2 separate regions of the Homo sapiens genome follow, and region 2 is linked to region 1. A link means that fine-mapping ties the variant in region 1 to the expression of a gene that starts in the linked region. Tissue or cell type: monocytes. Region 1 holds a variant in brackets; the other region holds the start of a gene. All regions are shown on one strand. Distances are between the middles of the regions.

The links. PIP is the estimated chance that this variant, and not a neighbour inherited with it, causes the effect.
Region 2: it holds the start of FYCO1, and the variant in region 1 is fine-mapped to the expression of FYCO1 in monocytes (TOPMed, PIP 0.91).

The regions. Positions count from the first base shown.
Region 1 is chr3:45,915,226-45,923,551 of GRCh38, forward strand. FYCO1 (FYVE and coiled-coil domain autophagy adaptor 1) reads right to left here. Exons shown (of 18, transcript NM_024513.4): 18 at 2,678-6,615. The coding sequence ends at 6,540. It also overlaps a transcript of LZTFL1 not described here. Among named protein-coding and RNA genes, the nearest start is that of CXCR6, 24 kb to the right of the region's middle. RefSeq lists enhancers at 44-1,243, 683-952. The variant C/T (reference allele first, on the strand shown) is at 4,134.
Region 2 is chr3:45,991,258-45,999,257 of GRCh38, forward strand. It overlaps FYCO1 (FYVE and coiled-coil domain autophagy adaptor 1), which reads right to left and starts at 4,567. Exons shown (of 18, transcript NM_024513.4): 1 at 4,465-4,567. LOC105377063 (a long non-coding RNA gene) reads left to right here and starts at 4,646. Exons shown (of 3, transcript XR_940799.3): 1 at 4,646-4,832. RefSeq lists enhancers at 1,820-2,320, 4,366-4,865, 4,366-4,415, 4,436-4,595.

The DNA.
Region 1 (8,326 bases):
ATGGCTTCTGCTAAGCAGCCCTGGGTCCAGCCCTCCTTGCAGCCTTTAGGGAGGCCCTTTCTGTTACCCCTCTTTTCTCATCACTGCTTTGCTCTCCGATCTTTTATCCCCGCACCGCCCACCTCCGCCCCACCCTTCTCCCTCACCAGCTTTCCTCTCTCAAGCCAGGGAGAAGACAGCACCTGCCCCACTGACCTGGAAGACGGACGTTTTGGCCTCCCAGAAATGGCTTCCTTCTCTCCTCCGAGGCTCAGTCAGAGTCGGCCTTGGGAGCAGAAAGCGGGGGAGACCTCCTGAAATCATTTTTTCTGTGATGATTCTATGGACCCACAGGCCCGAAGACAGACCTGTCCTAGAAACAAGGACTTCCTTTTGGTAAGGACACTCATGCATCTCAGGTTTTGTTCATTTTTTAGCTAAAAAAGACTTAATTCATTCAAGGCTTTAGATGGGGCTGTCAACTCTTAGATAACCTCAGTGCCAGCATGGTGGGAGGTGTGAGGAAACCACACTAGTCTCCGACCTCCCCAGAGCTTGCAGGATGGGGGCGGGAGGAGGGGACACACATCAAAGCCCAGAGGTTGGCCATCACCCTTCTGCTCGCATTACCATCCTTCTTCAGAAAACAGCGGGTGTGGGAAAAGTAAAAGGCTGACCTTTCCCTCACCCCTAACCCACTTTGAATGTCTTTCATAATTGCTATGCTTTCCCCCCGCCCGGCTTTTGAGGCTTCAGCTTCAACTGCTGTCTCAAAAAAAGTCCGTTTTCTCATCTTGGGCTACTGGTTTCACCATCTGTTTGCTCTTCAGATGTGTGTGGGTGGCAAGAGGAGATTTTTCCCACGCGTCTTCAAACTGAAAGGGCTGACCTTGCTGTGAGGAGCCTTCTGAGTCACCCAGGAGTCTCTGCATCCTCAGCCCTCACCCGGCAGAGTGGCAGGGAGGGGCGGGGCACCTCTTTGTGCCACAGAGCCTGTGAACACTGAACTGGGCCCGGATTACCTGGAATCAAGCGTGGGGCTTGGAAACCCTCCAGCAAAGACTTGGGTCATCTTGAGTTATTCTGCAGTTTAGCAGGGTGGGGTGAGGTGGAATGGAGGATTTTGACCTGGAGGTCCCCAGATCCCAGCCCCAGATGCACAGCACACACATATATGTATGTCTCAACTGTTTCTTGTTCTAGCCCCCAGCCCATGAGGCCCCCAAGCCTCAGGAAGGACTGTTGTATTAACAAAGAAACTCTCTGGCTCTGTCATTTGGGGCAGGTGGAGTAACTATCTGCCATTACTGCAATCTGGTTACTAGATAGATACTTGATCTGAGGGTACCTTTTTATTTTTTTGAGACAGGGCCTCACTCTGTCACTCGTGGAGTGGCATGATCTTGGCTCACTGCAGCCTCTACTGAGTTGGGACTATAGACATGCACTACCACACCTGGCTAATTAAAGAAAAAAAAATGTAGAGACGGGGTCTCACTGTGTTGCCCAGGTGGTCTTGAACCCCTGGGCTCAAGCAATCCTCCTGCCTTGGACTCCCAAAGTGTTGGGATTACAGGCGTGAGCCACTGCGCCCAGCCCAAGGGCATCTTTGACATAAGAGGGGGTGCAGGGGGTGGGACTGAGTGACCAGCTATCATTGCCTGTATCTCCTCCTGCAGGCCCACCCTTTCCCTCCTCTGCCACCGGAGTGTTTCAGGAGCCTCTATTCCTGGCAGAGTTAGTCGCCAGTGGGAATGCTGATGACTTTTTGGCGACCCAGGGCACTGGGACTGACCCGAGAGGTCAATTCAGTATTTTTTGAGTCCCTTCCTGCCTGGCATGTTGCTCGATGCTGCGGTGGGGAGAGAAGGGAGGAGGGAGATGAAGATAAAGATGAAGGATTCACTGTCTTTTATCCTTGGGAGAGAACCAGAGTTACAGAAAATGTGACTTCTTCCATGGAGTAACAGATTAAAGAAGAGGCCAAACGAAAGTCTGGCAGCAGGAGAGGGCTGGCGGAGGAAGGGCGGTGAAGGGGTGGTGTGGGGAGGTGTTCTTTTGAGGTGCAGAGCACTGCAGGGACAGAGCCCTGGTCATCCCTGGAGTGGGGGTGTGAGGTGAGTGTGGGTGGGCTGCCCAGCCTGAGCTCAGTCCAACATCCAGCAGTGACCAGGGCATGCCCCTCTGGGCCTCTGTCCAGGCTCTTTGCTGACCCAGCCAGAGAAAGGTATGCGGGAATGGGAGGGCTGACTTCTTCCTCTGCCAGCCATCTCAGCCTGGCAGTCTTGCCCAGCTTTGTACCTCATATTGACCAATCATGGTTTTAGGCCATCCATGATGCTTCTCCCCAGCCCCATTGTTCCGGTAAACTCAGAAGTCTGCTCTTTGCTCAACATGCTCTGTGGGTGCCCTGGGAGATCTGGACATTTGAGCTGAGGCTAGAAGCCCATAGGGCACAACAGCATGGATTGAAAGACAGGCTGTCTCAGGCAGGTCTAAACACCACCCTCACAGCAGGCCAGGAAGCAGCCAGGTGCCAGGCCACCTGGAAACTTCCCAGAACATCTGCTGGCTCAAGTCCTCCTGAAAAGCCACCATAAAAGATGCTCTATTTCCCAGCAGCACAGCTCAACCCCAACTCAGCTCTGTATAACTTCGTGGTGCACTTTATGTCCCAAAAAAATGAGAGACAAATGTCTAAATGTCATAGTGTTTACTTTATTTAAATCCTGAGGTTAAAAATAAAGTATTTCCACATGGCATGGCAGACACTATAAAATAATATGCTTAGGGATACAAAAGTTTTCCACCCCCATTGAGCAGGTGGGGTGCTGGTATTTGATGTGCTTCTAGATAATTCTTTGGCAGATAAGAATGAATTGGGGTCCCAGACCCACCATCCCGTAAGGCCACATGAATTGAGGATTAATCAATTAAAGTGCAATTCCAAATGTTGAGCCTTCCAAATGAGGCTTGGGTATTGCTCTGCAGCCACCAGAGGCAGAGTGTCTCTGCATAACATACATCAAGCAGCCTTTTTCTTTTTTTAAATCAGAGATGCCTCCCCAAATTTCAAGATGTACTTTATTATTTTAAAAGTGCTTAAGAGGAAAGAGAGAATTATTAATTCAGTCTCTCCTGTTTCCTTGGAAGAAACATAATGAAATGAGAAGAACTTACTAAAGTTCCCCTACAAAGTGCTTTCTTGGTAAGTGTTTTGTAAACAAGAATGGCCGTCTCGATGGTCTTTGTGTACATGACCATCCTTGGTTCTAAGCATCACGAATGGCTTCTCTCTGCTTTAATTCCCAACACCTCTGAGCCAAGGACAGTTTCTTGGCCTAAAGAATTCTCATATGTAGAATCATGCGCACTTTTAAAACTGAAACTCCTTTAAAATTTCATCAGTGGACATCCAACCATATCATAAAACACAGGCTCTGTGATTTCATCCCCAACTGGCGATTTCCTTTCATTTGGGCCTGAAATAGTTTCACCACCTTCGATGATAATTTTAAAATTTCCAAAACACCATTTATTCTTGAGTTATATGACGTGGCTTTTCATTTCTATTCTCCAAACCCTGTGGAGTTTTTCAGTTCCCGTGTCTTTGCCTGCTCTTGGTCCAGTCCACCTGGAATCCAGTGTGTTGAGGTCAAGCACTCTGTAGAGTCCACTTGGACCTGGAGGACAACACTTTGTGCCAAACGTGCCTCCTTGTTTGTGGGTAAGTGAATCTGACAGAGGTTGGCATGTTCTTGAAGGTGGTGAGTGGCTTCAGTGGCATGATGAAGAAGGCATCTGGTATCGATATGAAGACGTAACTGTTATTCAGAGAGATGAGCCATCAAGGGGCTGCCCCTTTTAAAAAAAAAAAAAAAGAGTGATCTGGGATCCCAAGGACGCTTCCTTCTGGCTGATTTCTAGTGTAATTCAGTCTAGCCAGGGCTACCACCTGCAGCAGTGGTTCTTCAATTGCTATTTGCATTTCTTTAAAGTACCCCAGTCCTTAATTCTCAGTAAAGTTGGGAATCTGATTAATATCAGAATAAAGCTATTTATAAAAGCCACTCTTAAATATGCCAAGATGTTTTGTAGCTGCAGAGAGCACAGCAAACTTGAGCTTAAACAGCAACCTAACAAAATACAAATGT[C/T]CACCCAGCACAAAAAATAAATTCGCTAATGAAACCACATAGTTAGGAAGTCACCTCAGGGCACGGGGCAGTCCTCCGAATGCAGCAAAGGCTTTTTTTGAACAATAGCAGTCAGTGCTCAAGGTGTTGCACGCAAAACATCCAGCTCTCCTGGAGGAGTGGTTCTGGGTAAGCTGCAACCGGTCCTCTGCTGTGGAGTGACATGTTCAGGAAGGACCTCAGATGGAATGTCCCAGGCCCCAAACCCATTAGCTACTCAGTGAATGGTGGTTCTTGTTGCATATGGTGCCAGTGACACTTCAGAAGGTCATCAGCTTGGCCAGAGTCTCCGCAGTATCCTTGGAAAGCCAAGCACTCAAAGATTCTAGATTGCTCTGGGTTCTCTTTTGTTAGTTTCTTTCTAACAGTGAACAAGCTGACTTCTGATTATCATTTGCAAGTGGCTGGATGGATTCAAAGTTAGCATGATTTGTTCTGAATCATCTCAGGCCACGTGGCATGCCTGTGAGGACAAACATCAGGCCAAGAAGAGTCGCTGGGGGCCTGGCCACCTCTATTCCAGTACTAAGCATGGTCAGAGCCTTGGCCAGGAGAAGATGATTGAGCACCTGATGGCTTTCTGCCAGAAGAGGCTGCTCCAAGGAAGCCGAATGCAAGAGGCCCAGCTTTTCTCTGGGCAACCTCTTTGAAAGGTTCTATTCCCTGTTCCCCATGCCTTGCTTAAAAACTGACTGGAAGTGCTCAACTCTCCTGTTTAAAGGTCTGAGTCCATTCCAGAAATGACCTCTTACTTGTGGCCCCACAAAAGTCCTCTTTGTTGGTGGTGAGGTTGTGGCTGCTGGTGTGTGGTGGGTTTGGGGTCTCTGTTGGACTTGGCCTGGAGTCCCTGACCCATTCTCAAGCCCTCAAAACCAGCCAGACCAGGGTTATGACAAAGAGAAACTTTGGGAAATGTGTGACTGGACTTAGGTCACAAGGGTAGCTGGAGGAACTGCCGGGCCCAGCTCTCAGATTCTCGGATAGCCTGTCTGGTGCTCTCTCCCTCACCCCTGGCCAAACTGGGACCTTTTGTCAGATGCTCTGTTCACCCATGGAAGAACCTGGGGCCTGACTGCAGGCAGCTGGTTCCATGAACAAGGGACGAAGAGCTGTCCAAGGTGAGCTATCTGTTGTTGGGGAAGAAAAGGACCACAGAGAACAGGGAAGATTAAATAATTCTTGTCTGGGAATAGGGAACAGGATCTCTCTGCCTCAAGGGGGGATGTCTCCTGGAGGTCTGGTGTGGGCTGAGCAGTGGGAAGTGGGCAAATGGGCTGTTGGGGAACCTGTCAGGAGGGGAGTGGGGCCCAGGGATCCATCATGCCTCTGTTTACTCTGTTACTTTGGTTCTTAAGTTATCAAAGACTTTTGTTAAGAAGGCCCCAATGTTTGAAAGTGGTTCTAATCCTGGCTATGATCATTAGTAAACATGTCTGCAGGTGGGGCAGAAGCTCTTATTTATATAAACAAAAGTGGGCCATCAGCTGAGGAGTAGCTCTAAAGCCAATGCACAATCCTGCTCTGTGGTCACAACATCCACACTGGCTGGCATTTGGGCATTAGATGTAGTGTACACACAGCCATTGCAGGCCCCAAGTACAGTGGGTTTTGCTCTTGGATTATCTTTACTTCTGATTCTTAGGGCAATGCTTTGAGCTGTGGAGAGGTCTGGCTGAGTGAAGGGCTTTATTTGAGGACAGAATCACCCAGACAAAAGGGCCAGAAAGAGAGTGCAGCTTAGAGGCCCCTCCAACACTGCTGAGTTCTGGAGCAGCCTCCAGCTTACTGGGGCAGTGAGGGACAAGAGCATGACTGGAGGAGCTGGTCAGGATCTCCGGGGGGTCCCCTGGCACCGACTCGCATGATGGCTGTGTACCTCCTTTTCCCAGGAGTACCTGAGGGCGTCACAGCCTGAGGATTCACAGGGCATGGCCAGTGCACCCAGCTCAGTCTCCAACATGCAGGGCCCTGGTGGGGCAGGGCAGAAAATCTCTCCACAGGCAGAAGTTGGAATCACCCCTGCCCGTGAAACTCTCCACAAGAGGCCTGTAGCCAACTGTGCTCCCAGGAGAGGCTGATGGTCTCCTGGGTGTTTAAACCTTTGGCAGAGCATCCCTTTGGGTGTGACAACAGCTGAGTCTCTACTTAATGGAAACATTGCCTGAGCCCTTCAACGCCTCGGGGGCTAAGAGTGGCCGGTGCAGAGTGCTGAGCACAAAGTCCTCCCCAGACACCGCCTCTGAGGGGCAGCCCAGGGGCTGAGTTGATGATTTTGGAGCAGCTGACTTTTTAAAAAAATGCTTTATGTGACAGGTGAGGAAGAGCAGTGTTTCCTGTGGATGAAGTGAAGTTACTGAGGTGCTGAAGCTACAGGAAATCACTTCCATCGTAGATCACAGGCCGATCAACCGTCAAGTGATAAAATACCTTTTTAGAGACAAACCTGAGGAAACAGAAATGGAAAGGGAGGGTGTTACCTGAGAGCTGAAAGTCCGAGGGGTGGCAGCTGCTGCTGAGGCCTCTGTGGTCACTGCAGTGACCTGGCTGGGTGTGGGTGCTGGAGCCCCATGCCCCATTTCCTGTCTGTCTAGTGGAGTTCTCTCCCTGGGAGGGTCAGAGGGTTTCGGGACATCACTGTGGACTCTCCTGAGGCTTGGGTGCAGAAATGCCCTTTTGATCACAGGCTGTGAATATCACCTCCCTCACCTGGCTGCTCTGAAGCAGCTGGTGGTGGGGACTGCACAGTGTGTGTATGGTGGTGTGAGGAGCAGGCAATGGGAGGAGGCATATGGTGGAGGCCAGCACGGATTTTTTCCTACTCGGCAGCTAACTCAGTTCTGATATCCATAGTTTGGAAATCTCAAGTAGGCCCCTGAGATGACCTCGATGGGCCAAGGCCAGAGTTTGTCACAGCACCATGGCCACCTCTAGGGATAACTGGGAGCCTGCTCGGGCTTGGGACGGTGCTCTGCCCTCATCACATCTCTCCTTGGTCTCTCCATCAATCCACAGTGTGGTTGCCACTGCAGAGTAGGAAATGGAGACTCAACTAAGGGCCGCTGGGGGAAGAGCAGAGCTTGGGCCTGGTGGTCCCCAACCCATTCTCCTAACCACTGCCCTATCCTGTTCAAGAGGGGCTGGGGCTCATGTCCACTCTTGGGGTAGAGGGTGGCTCCAAAGAGAGCTCTCTGGCCATGATAGGTCTATGCCATGAGGTCCTGCTAACTCCAGGGGTGCTTTCATTTCCACTTGGGAGTGTACGGAGGGGCAGGAGGGGGTGAGGTGGGAAGTTCATCTTCCAACCCCTCCTCTGGTGGGCACTCTTGGCCACAAGCCCTGGCAGTTCAAGGCCTGGAGGTGGTGAGGGGATGACTCAGGTTTTCCCTAGTGTCCTGTCTAGTTATTCTGCTAAGAGCCAAGTACCCATGCTGGGGATGTGACCGGTAGCCCAGGACCTTGCTCAGAGAGGATGTGGCCAGAAACAGATCAGGCAGTTCTCTCTAAAGAGCTGGTTCCAGTTAAGGGGTCTGTGCTGAAGCAGAAGACATAAACAGGGGCAGGTGCCCAGCCCCTCTCCAAATGATTGGCAGATACTCAGTCAATGCTGGTCCTGTCTCCACTCCCCTCCTGCTATCCCTCTGGCCTCATCTCCCTCCATTCTCATTCTCTTGTCCAGCTTCTCCCCCATCTCCCAACCTATACACTCCTGAACCTTAGCTGGTTCTCAGAGTGCTTCCCAGAGATGGCACCTGTCGCTCCCGCCACATGGCCAGGGGCTTTGTGGTGCAGTTTTGGGCTTGCTTATCTCAAGCTCTGCCCTTCCTTCTTTTATTTCTCCCTTTCTCGTTCATTCATTCATTCAGTCTTTCCATTGTATTTCCTAAGCCCCTTCTTTGGGCAGGGCAGTGGCAGAGCAGTGGGAATCAATATCAGAGAGAGGGAAAGGGCACCTTGGTTATGAAGAGTTCAGACTGGCCAGACCGCCTGGTTCAGATCCAGCTCCACCACTGGCTCTGTGACTTAGGAGTGTCACTCCTCTACCCCTCAGCAGTGACATGGTAAGACTCTGCAAGCATGAGCCTGTGTGTCACAAAATCTCTAAAGAACACTGGAACACCACAGGAGAGGGGTCAACAATCAAAGAACAATTAATA
Region 2 (8,000 bases), 76 kb after region 1:
TAATATAATTCAGGGATGGATGAAGTGTGTCTACTCCACACTGCCTACCTAGCCTCTCTTTATAAACAGACCTCTGGTGTCCTGAGAGCTCAGGTGACTGCTGTCAGACATGGGTACAAATCTCTTAACCCAGCTTGTGAGGCCCTTTACAGATGGGCTGCCTGACCTCGATAGGGATAGGCCCATCTTCTTGTCCCTCCTCCTTCCCTTCTTCCCCTCTGCCTATGTTCAGGCATCCCTGCGATGCCCTTCTGTGGCTGGGCCCTGCCTCCAGGGTTTGAATGCTCTGCTCCCTCTGCCAAGGCCATGCCCTGCCCAGCTCATGCTCCCTACACCTTCCTTTGGCCAGCTGCTCCAGTCTCGCTGGGTTTGGTGTGGACAGGAGGAAGTGTGAACCACAGTTCGGTTCCCGAGGAAGCCTTACCCACAGCCTCCTTCACCCCATCCTGGAAAATGAAAAGCACCGCCACCCTCACAAACAACCCTGCTAACCCAAACCTCCTGTCAGGGGGTGAATTGTGCACACCACCCCACCGCATTTCGATGTTGAAGCCCTAACCCTCATACCTCAGAATGTGACTGCATTTGAAGACAGGGCCTTTAAAGAGGTAATGAAGATTAAATGAGGCCATGAGAGTGGGCCCAAATCCAATTGGAACTGGTGAGTTTATAAGGGGAATTCTGGACACACACAAGAGATACCAGGGATGCGGAGCACAGAGGAAAAGCCGTGTGAGGCCACAGCAAGAAGGCGGCTGTCTGAGAGCCAAGGAGAGAGGCCTCAGGAGAAGCCAAACCTGCCAATGGCTTGATCTGGGACTTACAGCCTCCAGAACTGTAAGAAAGTACATTTCTGCTGCTTAAGCCACTCAGTTTGTGGTATTTTGTTATGGCAGCCCTAGCACAAATACACCTCCCAAGGCCCTTGTCTCTCCATTCCTGAAAGTGTGCATGTGACACCATCAACAAGGCAACCTGGGGAGGGGAGGTGCTGGTGGGCCTGGGTTCTGTTGCACTTCTTGGGGAGGAGCATGACAACAGCAGTGCCAGCGTAGGTGCAGAGAGGCAGAAGGTGGGGCCATGCTGCAGATGGGAGGGGCAAGCAGGACCCAGGATGGCTCTGAAGCTGGAGTTGGAGCAATGAGCAAGATATTTTCTTCTCTCTTACCAGTGGTAGCCAAGTTTTGTCAAATGGGACCCTATTTAGATTTTGGAATCAGACTAGTTACGTGAACTTTCCATTATGTATTATGCAACAAAGATCATGCCATGGTTGGGTGAGACCCAAGGTATATTTAGCTTACTCAACTATTTTTAGGCACTCTATCTGTCCTGGGGAAGTCATTTGACCTCTTCCTACCTTTCTTTTTTCAGATGCAATGTTGAGAGGTAAACTTCCTTCATGTGAATTAATTAAGAATTGCAACCCTTGAAGGAGGTGGGAAAGGGGGGGTAACAGACATTCTCAGTGGCTGAGGCTTCTAAGTGTCCCCTCCCTGCTCCTGACCAAGTCTACAGATACCCTGGAAAAAGCATCTGGGGCTGCAGAGTCAACTTCAGGAAATTCCTTCCAGCTCCATTTTAAACCACTGTTTCTGATTCAGCTATCCAGCCCTATCCTGGACTTCACATAGGGATTCTTCTCTTGGCCTTGCCCCCTGCATGCTAATGGTTTTCTTGGAATGCTTTTTTTGGTCCAAGCTTTTCTTTTGTATGCTAAGGACTTCCCCTAACTCGGGTTCCTGGGACTGGCCTAGGGTATAGTACTCTAGATTCCTGAGGTAGTTGGCCAGATCAGCCCTTGGGTCCCAGCCACAGGGCCACAATACTATACCCAAACCACAGATTCTCCTTAAGTCTTTCATCAGAACCACACTGATGTACACATCCTCCAAATGGCATCCGGCCTAATGAGAAACAGGCCCTTGGTGCCTTTCAAATGCCACAGAGATCCAAGTGAACAGGAAGGACCACTGGAAGTTACTAAAATCAACAGGTTGACTGGCTCCCATGTGAGAAAAGGGATAAAACTGCTCTTGCCTAACTGAGCACAGCTTCTGCCATCATCCTCTTCTCAAAGCCATGGGGCCCATTTGCTCCAAGGCAATGGCTCTTATTATGGGGGTAGTACAGACATTTCAGCCATTTTTGTGATGTATCAACGAACAGCAAGAAGGTAAACAGCATTTCCATAGGTAGAACCACAGAAACATTCCAATTCCCACCCTATTGATTTATTTAATTGCTCAGATAGAGGCTCTTATACCAATAAAGACTTCTTATTTTCTTGAAACTGGCATTGAGCTCACAAACAAAATACTGTTTATCTTTTGACTAAGACAAGAACATAGCAGTCATGACGTGAGCAGATGTTGCCCTGACCATAATGGACTCATCTGTGCTCACAAGTTGCCTCTGTAATCACAGGCACCAGTTAATGACCCTTACCTGCTGCCTAGGGCTGCTTGCAGTGAACGTGGTTCCTAAATCTAGGTGCCTACCAGTGATTTCCACCATAAGACCACAGCTAGACAACACACTTCCTCTGCCTCATGTTTAAAGACATTCTAGTCTTGAGTCACCAAAGCTGTGTCTTTGGAATCTTCAGTAAACAAAAGTTACCTATCAGCTAAACATCTCCCCTAAAGGGAAGCAGGGTGGGTGGGGGTGAGGGGGCTGCCATTTCTTGCGTACCTACTTTGTATTCTTGAGTCAGCAGTCCATAGCCTTGGTGACCAATATGGGTCAAAGCTACCAGCTGCTCTGATCTTGCTCTGTTATGGGTGATTCCTCTCATCACAAACATCTATGGGGGCCATCCCCCTCAAAAAGGACCAGGTTAAAAACTTGGCTCCTGAAATTATACTGGTGCTCCAAACCCAGCCCCAAGGGGCAAAGGTCATCGGAACAACAGCTAAAGGATCACTGCCTGAGACTGTTACCAATCTCTAAAGTAACTGCAAAAAAAAAAAAAAATCAAAGTAAAATATTAAGAATTGAGTATACGGATATTCACCATACAATCCTTTCAGTGATTCTGTATGTTTATTTTTCTAATAAAATATTAAAAACAATTTAAAAAGTAAATGAAGTGCTACACAAAGATAGTCACTTTGAACATAAACAGATAAACTCTATTTCCTAAAGCAAGAGCCTTTAGGAGAGATCCTATTAATCAAAGGAGGCTGAGATCCATCACTGTGACAATTAGCTCTTATTTTCAGGGTGATAATAACCACGGTGCACAACTAGTATGGGGCATTCAATGCTTTCAGAACAGTGGTTGTCACAGAAGGGAGGGTCAAGTGGAGCTCACTCAACAGGGGTCCACTTCAGAAGGTGGGAACTACTGAAAGCAGAAAACCTTGGCATGATAGCTCCAGCTCCCCACCCCTCCCCCACACCAGCCCCCAACACCCTCCAGCCGCATTAGGCAGATGGCAGGGGAATTAAGCTTGCAGCCTGAGACCACAAGGCCTGCACGGGCAGGAGAACCAGTGAGCAGATTAAGCCCTGGATCCTCTGCCCCGCAAAAGCCCCTGACCCATTTCTCTGTCGGGAAAGGAAACTGCTGTGGTAAGACAAGCAGAGGGGCTGAGAGGCTCTGGCCAACACAGGCAGTTTCAACAAGTGTTCTATTTTTTTTTCTGGAGAGGACACCCAATGGGAACAGTGAAGAGTGACAGGGACATCAGAGAATACATGTGCTTTAACAGGGGGCCACGCGGTTAACGTGTCAACCACATGTGCTTTTCTTACAAAAAATAAAATCCCGCCATCCTCCCCCCTCCCCGCCCCACCCCCGCCAGGTTTCAACAGCACGGACTCCAGTCCAGTGCAGTGCCGCCACACCAGAGACAACAGGTGTTTCGGGAAAAGACCCCTGGGGGCTAGCTCGAGACCCTGCGCATGGGCACAAGGGGCAGTGGATAGTGAATAGGTCTTGGCCAAAGGATGGGCCAGGAAGAAAGAAGCTTCTTCCCCTCCTGGGAAGAGGGCAGAGATCCGAGCACCAGCGGAGTCTTGCAAAGTGAAGGTCTGGGCTGTCCCGGCCCAACTGGGCCAGAGACTAAACTTCCTAAAGACCACGCAGGCAGGAACTCCGGGGCCTGCCCCATCCTGCGCTAAGACATTCAGGCTTGTTCTGAGACGCCGCATGGTGGGCTCCTTTCCTTTGCGGGCCCTCCGCCCTCCGGGGTCTTGGAACTGGTGTTTGGGGTCTGTCTTTCTAACCGACCAACAGAGGCAGGCTGGGTGCCTGGGCCGGCTTCCACCTGCCCGAGGTGCTTCCCGGCCCGCTGGGCAAGGACGGGGGCGCTCGGGCAGGGTCTGAGGGAGACCTGGGATGGGCGGGGACTGTAAGGGCAACAGGTGACAAGCCGCGCCCCGAGCGAAGCTCTCGCCTCAGGGATCGTGAGCGACCCAGGTGCCCCCAGAGTCCAGCCGGTCTTCCGCGGCACTTACGCGCTCGTGGGTCCACCGCCGGGCAGAACCGAAACTTTCTGGGGCCAAGCGGAAGAGGACGGGAACGCGGTGCTGACGGCCATGACGCGCACACCAAGAGGGTGGCGGGGGCGGACTACAACTCCCGGCGTGCTCCCCGGGGCTGAGGCCTGCAACTCCCATCGGACTCCCGGGGCTCCGACTACAACTCCCGGCGACTCCGCAGGGCGGGGTTTAAGTGCTCCCACCGCCCAGTCCCCGGACCGACTGTCCCACCCGCGACCCATGCTGGCCCCAGGTTAACGCCTGCAACCCCGGAGGGCCACAAATCAAAGGTCTGGCATCTTGACAACAACGCTGTTCTTGTGTGGCTAAGGAGCACTCCAAAGGTAGCTAGTTCGAGTTGAATCGTGCACGTGCTGTAAGTGTGAAATACACCTAGGTACCAAAGAGTCCGAAGAATGTTAACTAGCTCATTAATTTTTAGTGATTGCATGTTAAAATGATAATATTTTGATATATTGGGAAATAGAAAAACATGTATTGGTGGGCCTAATTTCCCATCTTTTAATCCCCCTTATTTCTTAATATCAGGGTCTTACTTAAAATTAGTGCTCAAAAACTACGTGTTTATGAACTACCACCCCTAACTTTGGCCCCATCCTCAGCCCAACTTCTATTTATAAGATGGGTGTTGCAAAGCACTGTGGAACTGAATACGATAGAACAAAATGCATTCAATCAGTGTCCGCTATGGGCACAGTAGAAAAGAGGAACACTACACGGGGACTTTGGCTTCTAACTGACTGCATTCCTTAGCTGTGGCTGGCTATCCTTTACTCTCTGCCCTAGTTCTCATCATTTAAGCCAGAAACAGCTCTCTCCCTTGTAGGACCTAGCTCGTGGTATCCAGTCAGGAACCGTGGTGGCCCAACATTCTAAACTGAGGAAGCAGGGTGTTGTCTGGGTACAATAATACAGAAAGAAAATCAATTTCTTAGTCGATTTTAGGCTATGACATCTCATTAGCCATCTAATTTTATAAATTAGATGTAGCTAAAACAGTGAGTTGGATGGATGGAGTAGTCAGTTTGGGGGTGGGGTTGGGAGGAGGTACATGAATAGAAGTGATTTCCACTCTTGTTAACAGAAAGGAGAACAGAAAGAAAACGGGGGGAGTGAGAAGATGACAAAGAGAAAAGTAATCAATGTAGTGGTCTAAGAGAAATCATTGCTCCAACCACTGTCTGAACAGCTTCATGCAATATTAAGGATGAGAGAGATTTTAATGTTGGTCATCTGGTCCAATATCCTTGTTTGAAACTGTGTGGGGAAAAAAAAACCTCCCTCAAACCGTATTTTTCCTCTACTCTTACACAACAGCAATCATCAACACAGGAGAATAATTTGGTGACCAGATGTGTGTGGGGTTTTCCCCACACACTGAGCAGTGGACCGCACCTGGGTGTCCTCCAATTCAATTCCGACACTATCTACCTGGAGTATCAGATCCCACAAGTGGAGGGCTCAGTCCCCAAGACTGCCTCCTCACCTTTAAACACCAGTTGTAAGTCTAGGCCTCCAGAATTTTGGAATGACTGGCTTCAAGTTGAGTTCCCACGACACCCTCTTTGGGTTCAGCTAATTTGCTAAAGTGGTTCATAGAACTCAGAGAAACACATTTACTGGTCTATTATAAAGGATACTGCAATGGATGCAGATAAAGAGACACGTAGGATGAGGTGTGGAGGAAGGGGCGTGGGGCTTCCATGCCTTCCCTGGATGCACCACTCTTCAGTAACCTCCACGTGTTCAGCTATCCCGAAGCTCCCCGAATCCAGTCCTCTTGGGCTTTTATGGAAGCTTCGTGATGTCAGCATTGCTTCCCCCAGGGTATAGGGGAGGACCCTCTCTTGGGAGGGTCTTAAGACCTATAATCAGAAAGGCGGGGGAAGCGGCTGGGCACGGTGGCTCACGCCTGTAATCCCAGCTCACGCCTTGGGAGGCCGAGGTGGGCGGATCACCTGAGGTCGGGAGTTTGAGACCAGCCTGACCAACATGGAGAAACCCCATCTCTATTAAAAATACAAAATTAGCCGGGCGTGGTGGCACATGCCTATAATCCCAGCTTCTAGGGAGGCTGAGGCAGGAGAATCGCTTGAACCCGGGAGGCGGAGGTTGCGGTGAGCCAAGATCGAGCCATTGCACTCCAGCCTGGGCAACAAGAGCAAAACTCCATCTTAAAGAAAAAAAAAAAGAAAGAAAGGCGGGGGAAGATTAGAGTCCTGCCTTAAAGCAGGTGAAAGGAGGGCAGAAGGCCAGAGAGATTCGGTTTCCTGAAGCCTAACATACCTAACATAACAAAAGACTGTAACAAGGGCTATGGGAGTTATGAGCCAGGAACCATGGAAGAAAACCAAGATAGATAGATAGATAGATAGATAGATAGATAGATAGATAGATAGATAGACAGACAGATAGACAGACATCATAATACCACAGAAACTTAAACCCAAAAGGAGTTTGAAAAGAAAAGGAAAACAAACCTAATATTTATTGAGGACCTATATGCCAGTCCCTAGCCCCCCAGCAAAAAAACAAAAAACAACAACAAAAACCCATTCAGCATTATATTTAAAACTTGCAGCCACTTGGTGACATAATTAGTATTCATTATCATACTTTGAAGATGAGGAGATGAAGCTCAGAGAGGTTAAATGACTGTCCTGGTCCACCCACCTAATAAGTGGTGGAGAGTGGTGGAGGCTGGGGTAGAGCTGGGGGCTCCTGAGGGGTCTTCTGTCACCCAGCACACTGTCAGATACAGGGAAGGTTAACAAAATCACTACTGTTCAGGTAGTTTAACTTGGATTTCCTTTATAGATACAGCAGAGTATTTCAAACTATAATCTTTCAAACAAACATACAAACAAACGCAGCATATTCTTGTGTTCTGATGTGAATACACATTAAGAGATCAGATTCAAAATCACCAAATCCCCACACCCTCTCCTTACAGCCTTAACAAGTGGCAGAAGAGGAGACTATTCCTCACGGGAAGCTGACCGTGCCCACGGCCCTGAGGAGGGATGAGGCTCTTGGAATGATTGTTAAGGGCTTTTTATGTGCCAGGTGCCATGTTATGTGTATTCCACACCTGGTTTAGTTTTATCCTTATATCAGTCTCATGATACATAATTATCCACATTAAGCAGATAAGCAAACAGCCTTAGAGAAGTTAGCTAATTTGCCTAAAGCCCAAACCTTATAGTGGCAGAGACAAATTTTGAGCTCAGGTCTGTCCAATTAGAGTTTAAGCCTTTAACCACTGTGATGGCAGCTCCTTCCATGGGGCAGCCATGTGCTCTGCCAAGGACCCTACCATTGTGGCCCCTGCTGGTCAGGCCAGAAGTGGATGCCAGCCATGCCAATGGCATGGGGTGGCAGCTCAAAAGAGTCAGCCTCCTCTTGATAGTCACTGGTCAATTAATCTCTCTGCTGGAAAATTCGAGTGTAAGACCCACGGAAGGAATCAGAAGTTGACTGCAGAATCAACA